Homo sapiens: one gene and its partners. The protein of the gene in region 4 interacts with the protein of the main gene of each other region in a biochemical or structural test. Each region holds a gene or a part of one and is shown on either strand. Other genes may lie near its edges.

Evidence for each region. The genes of interacting proteins can lie anywhere in the genome.
Region 1: the proteins of SIPA1L2 (region 4) and SLC22A11 interact in a test that uses a peptide from one of them, tested with the Homo sapiens proteins (one large-scale study listed by IntAct).
Region 2: the proteins of SIPA1L2 (region 4) and SSTR5 interact in a test that uses a peptide from one of them, tested with the Homo sapiens proteins (one large-scale study listed by IntAct).
Region 3: the proteins of SIPA1L2 (region 4) and SLC15A5 interact in a test that uses a peptide from one of them, tested with the Homo sapiens proteins (one large-scale study listed by IntAct).

The regions. Positions count from the first base shown.
Region 1 is NC_000011.10:64,569,441-64,572,940, reverse strand, and holds the end of SLC22A11 (solute carrier family 22 member 11), read right to left. Parts: intron 3,290-3,500; coding exon 3,083-3,289; intron 1,963-3,082; coding exon 1,899-1,962; 3' UTR 66-1,898; downstream 1-65. UniProt on the Homo sapiens protein: Antiporter that mediates the transport of conjugated steroids and other specific organic anions at the basal membrane of syncytiotrophoblast and at the apical membrane of proximal tubule epithelial cells, in exchange for anionic compounds.
Region 2 is NC_000016.10:1,075,747-1,078,850, reverse strand, and holds part of SSTR5 (somatostatin receptor type 5), read right to left. Parts: intron 1,228-3,104; exon of another isoform or gene 1,139-1,227; intron 394-1,138; exon of another isoform or gene 120-393; intron 26-119; exon of another isoform or gene 10-25; 5' UTR 1-9.
Region 3 is NC_000012.12:16,267,686-16,271,185, forward strand, and holds part of SLC15A5 (solute carrier family 15 member 5), read right to left. Parts: exon of another isoform or gene 2,228-3,500; intron 1,141-2,227; exon of another isoform or gene 610-1,140; intron 1-609. UniProt on the Homo sapiens protein: Proton oligopeptide cotransporter.
Region 4 is NC_000001.11:232,511,458-232,515,269, reverse strand, and holds part of SIPA1L2 (signal-induced proliferation-associated 1-like protein 2), read left to right. Parts: coding exon 1-1,413; intron 1,414-3,812.

The DNA.
Region 1 (3,500 bases), on a different chromosome or scaffold from region 4:
TCTTTGACCCGTGGGTTACTTAGAAGTGTGTTGTATAGTTTGAAGAGGTTTTCTATATCTCTTTCCATAATTGATTTCTAATTTAATTCCATGCTGGTTCAAGAACATTCTTTGTATGATCCGAATCCTTTAAAATTTACCGAAGTGGGAGGAAAGGCTGGGGTCCCATGGCTGCCTGACCAGGCAGGGGGAGAAGTGTGATCCTTATTGTGAGCCACTGGAGGGCTTTCAGCAGGGAGGGATTTGGTTTGGATTGCGTTTCTTAATAAGCATGGTGGCTGTTGTGCAGAGTGCAATGTAGACATCAGGGACCAGTTTGGAGCTACAACCGTGGTGTGAACCAGGGTGTAGCCAGAGTGAAGGGAAGTAGGTGGATTTGGGAGCTGTGAGGAGGCAGGAGTGATTGACCCAGTGTACACAGGGTGAAAGAGGTGAGTTGAGGGGCCTGAGATTGAGGTGGCCCAGAGTGGGGTCTCCAGGGAAGGGCATGAGGGTAACTTTGTGGCAGGGCCACAGATATCAGTGGCATGGAGGGTTGGAGACGAGGGCTAGGAGCCTCCTGTGCTGGAAAGAGCCCTGGGCTAGGATCAGGGCCGGGTTCGGCCGTGTTTCTGCAAGCTGGCCCCTCCACCACTCTGCACTTTTGCTTCCTTGCCCATCTGAGATGGGCAGCCGGCCTCGACCATCCCAGAGTTTTCATGGCCTGGACAAGGGAGGTCTGGGCATGAATCAAGAAAAGGTGTCCCCTCCAGAAAACAAACAGCAAAAGGGTGCCGTTTGGTTGAAAGCCGAAAGTTAAGGTTCAGTATTAGGTGCTGCCCTTGACATCTGGCAAAGCCAGAAGGCCTTGGCAGGCCTGCCTGTGAGCTCCCCTTCTCCCCTTTCACTCCGCCCTGTGGATGAGGCTCCCCGGCCCAACAACCCTCATCGAGGGGACCAAGAGGGGTTCCTCTTATCCCTACGCTTGTAAGGCTCCGTTTCTCGCCAGCCTGCAGCATGATGAAACAAGCTGATTACACCTTCCCGCAGAAGCCAGGAGTTGCCCCACCCCCTTTGTGCTCCAAAGCTGCCTTCCTGCAGCCCTGGCTGCTCGCTCGGATCCTCAGTGCACCCCGCCCCATGCCTCAGTGCAGCGTCATCTTCGTGGGCTCTGCGCACGTGTGTGGTAACCTGCTGCCAGCCTCCTCTGTCTGGTGTTTGGTGGTGTGTTTGGCCGTCTTCGTAACCATAGGGCTGGAAGCCCTCCCTCACTGATGAGTAAATGAAAAGTGATTAAAACAGCTCCTTTTTTTGGAGAGGACACAGCCTTTGCTAGGGTGGGTGGTGGGGCCAGTGTAGCCGGGGCTGAGTTTCAGACCCCACACGCCTCCTTGGCTGCGTGCCTCGGGCCAGTGCACAACCTGGACACCTGTATCTGGCAGCTCTCTCAGCAGGTTCCATTTATTTGGCCGGTGCTAAGATCAGTTCACCCTGATACCTGCCCTGGGGGGTGGGTCACGTGATCATTCTCATTTCACAGATGAGGGCTCTGTATGTGGTGGGGTGAGATTGGAACCCAGTCTCTGGTTGGCGTGGCTGAGTGAAGGTGTAAAGACATGAGCCTGGCAGGGAAAGGGAGGGGAACCGTCTCGTTATTGGTTGGGCATGGCCATCTGCACAGGCTCCTGTAGGGCCCGGGTAAGGTGGGGAATCTGATCAGGGCAGGGAGAAGAGGAGTGAGCTGTGGAAGCTGCCTTCAGCCACAGCAGACGGCCACGCTGTCCACTCGGCCACGGCTGCCTGGCCTCTGCCATGCCAGGCCCTTGAAGTCGCCCAACTCGCCTCCACGCTCTGATTGGAGAAGAGGCAACTCCTTTCCAGGAGTCTTTGACTAAAGGGGCTCCATGCAGGCACAATTTCTAGAGCGAGGTACTTTCCACAGTGACGGCCTCTTGCCGGTTGCCCTGGGCTGCTGTTGATTTCCTAGAATAATCCAAAGAAAAGCAGTGCCATGTGGTGAAGTGGGTATGTACTCGGAGCTTGGGGCAAAATGGCGGTCAAGTCTTATTGGGGGGTAAACTCTATGGCATTAGGCTTTTACTCCCTTCTGTGTACCCAAGCGGGACAGTGCCTGAAACATAGTAGGTACACAACAAAAATCAATTAAATTAAAGAAAAAATGAAGTCCCAGCTTCTCCGGGTCTCTGCAGGTGTCCTTAGGCAAGTTATATAACCCTGCTGCATCTCAGTTTCCTTGGCAAAGGAATTGGACTGTAATAGCACCTCATGTGGTTGTTGTATCGATTAAATAAGGTGACATAAAACAATAAGAACTCAGTATTATTACTATCATTGTGACCTCGGTCACCATCAGAATTGAGGCGGCCCTGTGAACAGTCACCCAGGACACAATAACCACATGTCCAGAGTGCTTGCTGCAGGCCTGGCATTTTCCCAGGTGCTTTAAAATAATACTTCCCTTAAACTTGAAAACAACTCTGTGAGCCAGGCTGGGTTTTGTTTGTTTTTTCTAAACACCATCTTACAAAGGAGGAGGCTAAAGCCCACAGAAGTGGTTCTGGCTATAAAATGCAGCCAGGGAGTGCTCCCTCATTTCTCCCTGTCAAAGAATGGGTGTGAGATGGCACCATCTGTTCTCTGAGGGTTTGAAAGAACTCACCTGTTGATCTGTCTGGGCCTGAAATTCTTTGTGGGAAAATTGCACTAGGACAGTTGAGACTATCTGTATCTCCCTTTGTCAGTTTTGGTGAGAGAGGTTAAGTCACTTGCCCAGGCAGGTGGGGAACGTGGGCCCAGGCAACCTGGCTGCCAAGCCTGGGCTTTCAACCATTACATTTTCCTGCATGAGGTATGATCACTTTCTACCCATGAGACTTTGGATAAGTCACTTTCTTTCTCTGACCCTAGTAATAGTATGGGGATAGTAATAATACATTTCTGGCAGGATTGTTGGAAAGATTAAATGGTTTCAGAAACACAGGCCTTGGTACTCTTGAGCCTTTGCCCTGGGCAGCCCAGGCCTGTCTCCATCTTGGCCCAGGAGGAAGCCCAGCCCGATGCCCAGGGATCACAGGTCACTCACTGGCTCTCCAGGTCCTGGATAGTGTCAGGGAGCGGAAGTCCCTGGGTCTCCGGGAGGAAGAACAGCACAACCAGGCTGGAAGCAATGGAGATAACGCCATAGAGGAGAGGAGGCAGCAGGGGCAGGGCTTGGCGGCTCATCAGGATCAGGGGACCCATCATAGCCCCCAGCCGGCCCACTGTATGCAGAATGCCATCTGCTGTCATCCTGTGGGTGAAGGGGAGGGCCCAGATCCCTGTAACAGCTGGCCCTGTGGCAGGAAGACATCCTGGGCTCACAGATGCCAGGGGAAGGAAAGCTGGGCTGAGGGAATTGCCCTCCTCAAGGCCTCCTCTAATGCCACCTCCTCCACGGAGCCCACCCAGATTTTTGCATCTAGTGTTTCAGGGGAAATCTCTAGGGCCCACCTCATTTTCCC
Region 2 (3,104 bases), on a different chromosome or scaffold from region 4:
CGTCAGGCTCTGCAAGAGAAGAAGGGAGGACGCCAGGGTGGTGAGTCCCTGAACCAGCACATGCAGGCATTCCTTCCTCCTGGGCCCCAGCCCCGCCTGCCAGGAGGCGCGGGATCACCGGGTAAACACGATTAGTCATGTTTAGCTTGGCCGGGAATCACGTTAAGCAAATTGTTTGGAAAATAAGCCAGGAGAGGAAGGAGCGGCGGGCAGGTGGCCCCGGGAGCCCAGACGGACGGCTGCTGTCGATATGGCGACAGCTGCCCTGTGGCCGCCCCTGCACCCAGATGGCGCCTGGCCTGGCCGCAGCATCCTGGAGTCTGAGGCCAGCACCTGCGTCTCCCTGAAGCCCCTCAGAGCCTGCCCTGCAGTGCTGCTGCCCTCGTCTACCAGGTAAGGAGCCGAGGCCCAGCGGGCGGCCCCTCCCGGGACACACAGGGAGAGGTGGCAGTGGAGAGAGATGGGGCCGGTGGTCGGCCCCCTGTCCGCCTGGGATGAATGGCACCTGGCTAGGACGACCTGAGAAGTGGCTGGACGTGGTGTCGCCACCGCAGCCTCGAGGGACTTTCACCGGGGTGCCCGCTGCCCGTTGGCCCCGAACCTCTCTCCAGGCCAGCGCAGGGACCGTCACCCCCACAGCAATGACAGACATCTGTAAACCCAGGCGGGGGCACAGCACAGGGCCAGAGAGACACCACCCTCCCCACGGGGCGGCTGCAGAGAAGCAAACACACAAACCACACAGAGTGGTCACACGGAGCCCCAGGAGTCACACAGGGCGAAGGAGGGGGGACTGCGGGCGGGGGCTGCACACCCTGCAGCCCGGAGGAGAAGCCGCGGTGGGGGGTGTGGGCGGGTCAGAGGCATAGCGTATGGGGGCTGCAGCCACCTGACACTGCCCAGTCCCATCGGAGCTTTGAGCCCCCTCCCAGGCCCTGGAACCCCCCACTGTGGCCCAGAGAGAGAACAGGGGAGACTTGGGGGAGGGGAGGGAGGGGTGTCCATGGAGAAGGGTGGGCTGGGAATGGTGACGTCTGTGGGTCCAAGGCCATGGGCACGTGTGTACCTCGTATATTGTTTTTGTATTTTTCTGCATGTTTGAAATCATTCATAAAAATGATACTCCGGCTGGGTGCAGTGGCTCAAGCCTGTCATCCCAGCACTGTGGGAGGCCGAGGCGGGTGGATCACCTGAGGACAGGAGTTCAAGACCAGCCTGGGCAACATGGTGAGACCCCCGTCTCTACAAAAAATACAAAAATTAGCCAAGTGTGGTGGCGGGCGCCTGTAGTCCCAGCCACTGAGGAGGCTGAGTCAGGAGGATCATTTGAGCCCAGGAGGTTGAGGCTGCAGTGAGCTGTGATTACACCACTGCACGCCAGCCTGGGTGACTGAGCAAGACCCTGTCTCAAAAAGAAGATCAATGCCTCCCCTGACGAGTGGGGCGGAGGAAGTCCGGATGTTTGGGTTGACCCTGGAGCTGTGTGACTCTGGGGGTGGCCAGCAGAGAATCAAAGTGTCCCCTAGGATCCAGACCAGGGACAAGCCCCTCCCTGGGGGACCTCGGCCTGAGCAGGGGTGGAGCCGGCTGTGGTGACCTCAGCATGTGCCGTCTGGAGCCCTGGGGCTGCTCAGCTGACCGGCCCTGACCCTGGAGGCACCTCAGAGCACAGGACGACCCCAGCAGCTGCCAGGAAAGGCCACAGTCCTGGCTGGGGGCTGTGGGGCTGGGCCAAGGCCACTGAAATCTGGTAGACAAGGAAAGGAGAGCTGGGGACGGGGGAGCCCAGAACACAAGGCTGACAGCACAAAGAGAAAGCCCTCTGTCCCCAACAAACCTAGAAATCAACATCCCCAAGCTCGCATGGCCCAAACACACTAAGAAATACGACTCAGAAAATCAACAGGGCCAGTGGACCCATGGATCCATCTCAGGGAGATAAAAATAACGAGCAAACAGGTACGCTTAGGCTATGTTTAAATATGTGCAGGATCCACAGAGACAGCATGGATAAAATGTTAGGAAATACATTTGGCTTCTGTCTAAGGAGTAAAATGAACAGGCATCTATTTTTAAAAATTACAAATCCTGGATGTAAAAAATACAATCATTTAAGTGGAAAAAAACACTACAAAAGTGGTCAGAACCAACTCCAGTGTGGACAGCACTGAAGAGAGAATTGGTGAATGGGAAGAGGGTTGAAAGATTCACTGGAGCAGGGTGCTGGCACAAGGTCCAGAGAGGGCTCTGTGGGGTGGGCAGGGGGAGAGCATGGCTGGGCTCCCCCAGAACTGGCGACAGGATCCCTTCTGGGAGCGCACCTGTCCCAAGCAGCATAAAGGAATGAAAGAGCATCCCCATCAAGCTGCGGCATCTGGGCAGGGACGCCAGCCAGAGAGACACCAGCCAGAGAGACAGGACGGATTCCCACAGGCAGGAGCCAGAGTGCAGCAGAATCCTCAGCAGGGACGGAGCAGTGGCCTCCACGCAGACCCCGGGGTGGGAGAAGAGGGGAGGTGGGGAGGGAGAAAGAAAGACAGGGTGTGGGGAGAGAGGGAGGGAGAGGGAGAGGGAGAGGGAGAGGGAGAGGGAGGGGGTGGCAGGGAGGGAGAGAGAAAGATAGGGTATGGGGGAGAGGGAGGGGGAGGCGGGGAGGGAGAGAGAAAACAGGGTAGGGGGAGAGAGAGAGGAGGGAGAGGGAGAGGGATGGGGAGGCGGGGAGGAGAGAGGGAGAGAGGGAGGGAGAGGGAGGGGGAGGGGAGGAGAGAGGGAGAGAGGGAGGGAAAGGGAGGGGAGGTGAGGGGGGAGGGAGAGGGAGGGGGAGGTGGGGAGGGAGAGAGAAAAGGTGGGGGGAGAGGGAGGGGGAGGAGGGGGAGGGAGAGAGAGGGGGAGGTGGGGAGGGAGAGAGAAAGACAGGGTGGGGGGAGAGAGGGAGGGAGAGAGAGTGGGGGGGGAGAGAGAGAGACAGGGTAGGGGGAGAGAGGGAGGGAGGGAGAGGGAGAGGGAGGGGAAGAGGCCTGTGGCTCTCCGCTCCCCAGGGACCAGCATGGAAATCCAACACGCCATGTTTGCGGCTCCCTCTGGCTGCCTGTGGAGCATGCATT
Region 3 (3,500 bases), on a different chromosome or scaffold from region 4:
TTCCCATTCCCTCATTCTTTTGCCAACAACCCCCGCCCACCCCCCACCTTTTTTTTTTTTTTTTTTTTTTTGAGATAGGGTCTCACTCTGTCACCCAGACTAGACTGGTGCAGGGTGTTCACAGCTCACTGTAATCTCAGCCTCCTGAGCTCAAGCGATTCTTCCGCTTCAGCCTCTCAAGTACATGTGACTACAGGTTCACCCCACCATGCCTGGGTAATTAAAAAAAAATGTTTTTTTGGTAGAGATGGGGTTACTCAGGCTTGTCTCGAACCCCTGGCCTTGAGTGATCCTCCTGCCTAGGCCTCCCAGAGCCCAGGGATTCAGGTGTGAGTCACTGTGCCTGGCCAACACCCAAATTTTAACAGTTGTCCTGACTCATGTACCTTTCAAGCTTAAAAGAGAACATGCGCCCGGCTCTGTGGCTCATGCCTGTAATCCTGGCACTTTGGAGGCCAACGTGGGCAGATTGCCTGAGCTCAGGGATTTGAGACCAGCCTGGGCAACATGGTGAAACCCCATCTCTACTAAAATGCAAAAAAATTAGCTGGCGTGGTGGTATGAACCTGTAGTCCCAGCTACTTGGGAGGCTGAGGCAGGAGAATTGCTTGAACCCGGGAGACGGAGGTTGCAGTGAGCTCAGATCGCAAAGGTAAAGAAGGAAGTGCTTGTTGTTATTAGGGTGAGAGGGTAGCATTTGTTAAACTTGGCTAGAGCCAGTGCAAATAGAATTTGGGAAGGTCTGGTGATTTTTTCATAGCTATTTACAAGCTACTACTCCTCAGCATGCAACTCAAAGGACATTTTGAGTATTAATAAGATTATTTCATGAACTGCTTTGATTTTGTTTGCTGAAATGTACCTTATAAATTATGATTTTACGATTGAAGAGTATATGTAGATTTATATTTTTTTCTCTCTCTTTTCAGAATTATGTTGAATTTCTCAATCAGGCAGATTTCTAAATGTGAGATAATTGCTATAAAATTGTCAGAAAGTTCCAAAGCAGTCTGAAACACAGTAGTGGGTTCAATCAATGATTAGTTTCATTTCTTTTCAAAGGCATCACTAGATTTTCCTTATGGCTCTGGAGTTGTTTTCAAACTTTGTTCTTCTGAATCACCTGAAGTACTTGATATGGTAGGAATATTTCTGTCCCCTCAAATTTCATATGTTGAAATCTTAACTTGGTATTAGGTGTTATACCTCCTATAACAATGGTATTAGGGAGTGGTGTATTTGGGAGGTGGGGCTTTTGCTCATAGGGGTGGAACCCTTCTGAATGGGATTAGTTCCTTTATAAAAGAGACCTCCGAGAGCTCCTTTGCCCCTTCCACTATGTGAAGACACAGTGAGAAGCCAGCAGTCTTACAGCCAGGAAGAGAACCCTCACCAGAACCCTGATCTCAGAATTCTGGCCTCCAGAGCTGTGAAAAATAAATTTCTACTATTTATAAGCCAGCCAATCTCTGCTGATTTGTTATTGCAGCCTGAATAGACTAAGACAGTACTTGTTTAAAATATGCATTTCCCACCTGTCCTCCCAGAAAATTCTGATCCAGGAGGTTCGAGGTGGGACCTGGGAAACATTTTCAACAAGGTTCTCAAGTGATAATTAAAATGAGCAACACTGCGTTGGAACAGTGGTTCTCAACTCTAACTGGGCAGCTTTAAAAAATCCTGGTCCCTGGATCCTACCTCTAACCAATGTAATCAGAATCTTTGGTGGCAGGACCCAGGCATTTGTACTTTTTAAAAAAGAATCCTCAGGTGGCTTTAATATGCACCTAGGATTGACAATCATTGTTCTCAATGTTCTTGTGAATATTAAAATAGATTCTGGAAAAATGCTGTGGGATAATACATTTTTACCTCTAGTGCTTCCCTAAGATAAAATATATTTAATTTGAGTAAGTGTTAAAATCAGAATATTTCAGATACCATGTAGAGTCAATTTGAGTACCAGATAGTCAACATTTCTGGGGTGAAATAAGTCAGTCTCTAGACTTTCTTCAAGAACTTTACCAATATTCTATTTGGGCTTTTAATCATGTATATAATTCACCCTAGTAACCCCTTAGCAACAGACTGTGATATGCAGATAGGATGCAAATTATCAGGTGAAGAAAGTAGAGAAATGCAGAAGCAAGATTTGAGGTTAATTGTGGTAGAATTTAAAATTGTGGCCAGGAACAGACTTCATTATCCTCCTTCTTTTTGCTTCCAGAAAAGAATCTGCACAGGTGTATTTACCTAGGTGATCTCCAGTATGGCGATTCTTAATTGTCCATCTCAGCTTTTGGAATATGTGGAAAGCCAGGCTCTGATCTGGATAATGACACAAGGATGTTGGCAGATTATTATGTCTCTTGATTTCAGGGAGTTTAGCTTTATTTTTGTAGTGAGGTGCATTAGTTGAGGAAGATCCAGTACCAGATGGTAATGTTGGCTGGGAGTGGTTTTCTCACCTACATTTGGCAGCTTTACTCGGAAGTGGTGCTTTCAGTGCCTGAGACTTCCAGTCTATGCTACTTAACATGATCATTGGGAAGCTTTAGGTGGTATAGAAGCAATGACACATCTCATTAAAGGTCCCATAACTATGAACATCTGACATCTGTGCTGCAAATAGGACTGAATAAAGCCTTCAAGTGGTTACAGATTCAAGGGGTATGTTGTTTTTTAAAGGCACGGCTGAAATTCGTTATATTTACCAGTCTTGTAATTTCTAGAGGCATTTTTGACTGGAAGACATAGATTACACATTAATAAACTGCTCCTTTCAAAGATGACCTCCTCCTAAATGGGTTCCCTCTTTCCCAGCATTTAGACAATGGTTTCAGCTGATGGCTTATCCATGATTTAGCAATAATCATAACAATAGCTATCATAATTTGATACCTATAATATGCTAGGATACTTTATATATAAGTGATACAATAGCTCTCCAAGATATTCCCACTTTGTGGATGAGGAACCTGGGGCTCTGAGGAATTAAGGAACTTGCCAAAGACCATAAAACTCCTAAGTGACAGAGCCAGGATTCTGCCAGCTGTCTGGTTGCCCAGTGGAGTCTCTGTCCATCTTGTCACCAGCCCCCGCACTGTGTACAGGAATGGAATCAGCATTCATTGCTATAAACTGCAGTAAGGTAAGTGAACATTCATAAAAGTTGGCCTGTAGTTTAGTATTTAAACTGGAAAAATAAAAAAAGGCAAGACAACCAGATTCAGCCTTCAAGGATCTTACCATCCAGTTCTTTTATCACATTAAAAAATAACAGCCTGATTCTTTATACACATTTCTAGATGCTTTAAATTTTTAAAATAGTGAGCTGTTTAGTGAAATCAGAAAATAATTTTTAAAAATCTAAATATGTTCATCCTAAATTTGGCCTGGTTCCTTACAGCTGCAGAAATTCATTTTCACCCCATTCCCCATCCCCCTTCCTGAAGCCCTAAAGCACACACCCAGTGGGAGTCCCCTCTGTTTCCCAAAGG
Region 4 (3,812 bases):
CCCCTAGAATCATGCAGTCAGATGATTATTTTGCTCGGAAATTTAAAGCCATTAATGGCAACATGGGACCCACTACTTCTTTAAATGCCTCGAATTCCAATGAGACTGGCGGTGGTGGTCCGGCTAATGGTACCCCAGCTGTGCCCAAGATGGGTGTGAGAGCAAGGGTGTCTGAATGGCCTCCTAAAAAGGACTGTTCCAAGGAGCTAACATGCAAGGCACTGTGGGAAAGCCGGTCTCAGACCAGTTATGAAAGCATCACTTCTGTCCTGCAGAATGGGCAGAGTGACCAGAGTGAAGGTCAGCAAGATGAACAGCTCGATCTGGACTTCGTGGAGGCCAAGTACACAATCGGAGACATCTTTGTCCATTCCCCCCAAAGAGGACTTCACCCCATAAGACAGAGGAGCAATAGTGATGTCACTATCAGTGACATTGATGCCGAAGATGTCTTAGACCAAAATGCAGTCAACCCCAACACCGGGGCTGCCCTGCACAGGGAGTATGGAAGTACTTCATCCATCGACAGGCAAGGCTTATCTGGTGAAAACTTTTTTGCTATGCTCAGAGGGTACCGAGTAGAAAATTATGACCACAAAGCAATGGTCCCTTTTGGGTTCCCTGAATTTTTCCGCTGTGACCCTGCAATCTCTCCGAGCCTTCATGCAGCAGCACAGATTTCTAGGGGAGAATTTGTCCGCATCTCAGGATTAGATTATGTGGACAGTGCCCTCCTGATGGGGAGAGACAGGGACAAGCCTTTCAAACGGAGGTTGAAATCAGAGTCGGTGGAAACATCTCTCTTCCGAAAGCTTCGAACTGTTAAAAGTGAGCACGAAACTTTCAAGTTCACGTCTGAGCTGGAGGAGAGCCGACTGGAGAGGGGCATTCGCCCTTGGAATTGTCAGCGATGTTTTGCACATTATGATGTCCAGAGCATTTTGTTTAATATCAACGAAGCCATGGCTACGAGGGCTAATGTGGGGAAAAGGAAAAACATAACCACTGGGGCATCTGCAGCATCCCAGACTCAGATGCCTACGGGCCAGACAGGCAACTGTGAGTCCCCTTTAGGGAGCAAGGAGGACCTCAACTCCAAAGAGAACCTGGATGCCGATGAGGGTGATGGGAAAAGTAACGACCTCGTCCTTAGTTGTCCTTACTTTAGAAATGAGACTGGAGGGGAAGGCGACAGGCGGATTGCGCTCTCTCGAGCCAACTCATCCTCTTTCAGTTCTGGGGAAAGCTGCTCTTTCGAATCGTCACTCAGCTCTCACTGCACAAATGCAGGTGTCTCCGTCTTGGAAGTGCCCAGAGAAAACCAGCCTATTCACAGGGAGAAAGTGAAGCGCTACATCATAGAACACATTGACCTTGGGGCCTATTATTACCGCAAATTCTTCTATGGGAAAGGTAAGGAAGAGCCATGGGCGTTTGCATGTGTCTCGGGAGTAGTTTTTTAAGAACCAGTCACAATGTTTTGCTTTGTGTTGGAGCACCTTCCTCAGAGTGTCCAAGGCCATAGTCCACTGGGCCTGACCTTGTTCTCCATCATGGTCCCTCCATAGCTTCCAGGCTAATTTTTTCTTTAGAAAACTGCAATTCCATGCCTTTGTTTATGGGTAGTCCTTAATGTGTAAATGCCCTTTTGGTTTCTCTTTCTGTCATTCTTTGTCTGCCAATTTGTGATCATCACAAATTCAGACTTGATTTAGATTTCATCCCTTGTAAGAAGTCTTCCCTGATTAATTCTGTCCTCCTCCTATTCCTCTGAATAATCTCTTATGCTGCTTACAGTGGAAAATTCTGTGTTTCCCTCACCTCTCTAATCTTTCTGTACTTTGCTTCTCCAGCATTGCTGTATGTGTTGGACATGTTAAATCTTTGTTGAAAGAATGCCTGAATTACCACAACAGACAAATTTTGTTTTCATGTAGTTCTATAGATGGGCTTAAATGTTAAGACACAAGTGATAAATTATTTAATTCTATGTCAAATAAATGGTTTTTGCTTTACGTATATCTTCAGGCTTGAAGGATGCATTCTTCAGAGGTCATGTAGTTGAATCCTCAACCTTTAAATAAGTGTCCCTAATTATCCCAGGGCTAGGAGAATCTTCTCTGATTTAAAGACCTACAGAGAAACAGGTTCCACATGTGTCAGTAACACATGCCGAGGAAAACACTCCGGCACCTCTCACCACCTTCTTATTGGGTGCAGCTGGTGTCCTTCACGCCTTCATTATAGTGCAGCTTACTTTTCAGAGCTATATTTTTCTGTCTTCAGTTTCACCCGTCAGCCCTCTTCCTGCTCCCAGGGATCCAGGGATAACCTCACAGAGTGCCTGAGGAGGCAGAGGGTGGGCCCCGCTACTCTCCTCCTCCTTTTTCTCAGTGCATAAACTATTCTGCTTCTAGCACAGATAGCTGGGAGCTCACTGTACTTTTATTTATTTATTTTTTTTTTTACTTTAAGTTCTGGGATACATGTTCTGAACATGCAGGTTTTTTACATAGTTATACTTGTGCTATGGTGGTTTGCTGCACCTGTCAACCCATCATCTGGGTTTTAAGCCCTGAATGCATTAGGTGTTTGTCCTAAAGCTCTCCCTCCTGCTTATGAGTGAGAACATGCAGCGTTTGGTTTTCTGTTCCTGTGTTAGTTTGCTGAGAATGATGGTTTCCAGCTTCATCCATGTCCCTGCAAAGGACATGAGCTCATTCTTTTTTATGGCTACATAGTATCCATGGTGTATATGTATGGTAGTTTCTTTATCTAGTCTATCATTGATGGGCATTGGGGTTGGTTCCAAGTCTTTGGTATTGTAAATAGTGCTGCAATAAACATATGTGTGCATGTGCCTTTATAGTAGAATGATTTATAATCCTTTGGGTATATACCCAGTAATGACATTGCTGGGTCAAATGGTATTTCTGGTTCTAGATCCTTGAGGAATCGCCACACTGTCTTCCACAATAGCTGAACTAATTTACACTCCCACCAACAGTGTAAAAATGTTCCTATTTGTCCACATCCTCTCCAGCATCTGTTGTTTCCTGACTTTAATGATCGCCATTCTAATTGGCGTGAGATGGTATCTCATTGAGGTTTTGATTTGCATTTCTTTAATGACCAGTGATGATGAGCTTTTTTCATATGTTTGTTGGCCGCATAAATGTCTTCTTTTGAGAAGTGTCTGTTCATATCCTTTGCCCACTTTTTGATGGGGTTGTTTTGTTCTTGTAAATTTGTTTCAGTTCCTTGTAGATTCTGGATATTAGCCCTTTGTCAGATGGACAGATTGCAAAAATTTTCTCCCATTCTGTAGGTTGCCTGTTGCCTCTGATGATAGTTTCTTTTGCTGTGTAGAAGCTCTTTAGTTTAATTAGATCCCATTTGTCATTTTTGGCTTCTGTTGTCATTGCTTTTGCTGTTTTAGTCATGAAGTCTTTGCCCATGCCTATGTCCTGAATGGTATTGCCCAGGTTTTCTTCTAGGGTTTTTATGGTTTTAGATTTTAATTTCATCAGTATTGGTTTCTGTCTTGAGAATATTTGTGTAATTTTTGACTGTAGTTTGTTTTATTGGAGTGGGTTGGGGAGGGTGGGTAACACAGACCTTAGGAGGTCACTCTGTCCACTTCAGTCCCTTATAACGTTAAACCACTGTGAAGCCTGTTTATTACTTTTTCTCATGGAGTATAGACTTAAAAGAATTTGTCTGCCAGATAAATTGTGATTATTAATAATTCCCCCTCCTGTTTTTGCATCAATCCAGACTTAGCATGTCTTTTGTAATCACATTATGACAAC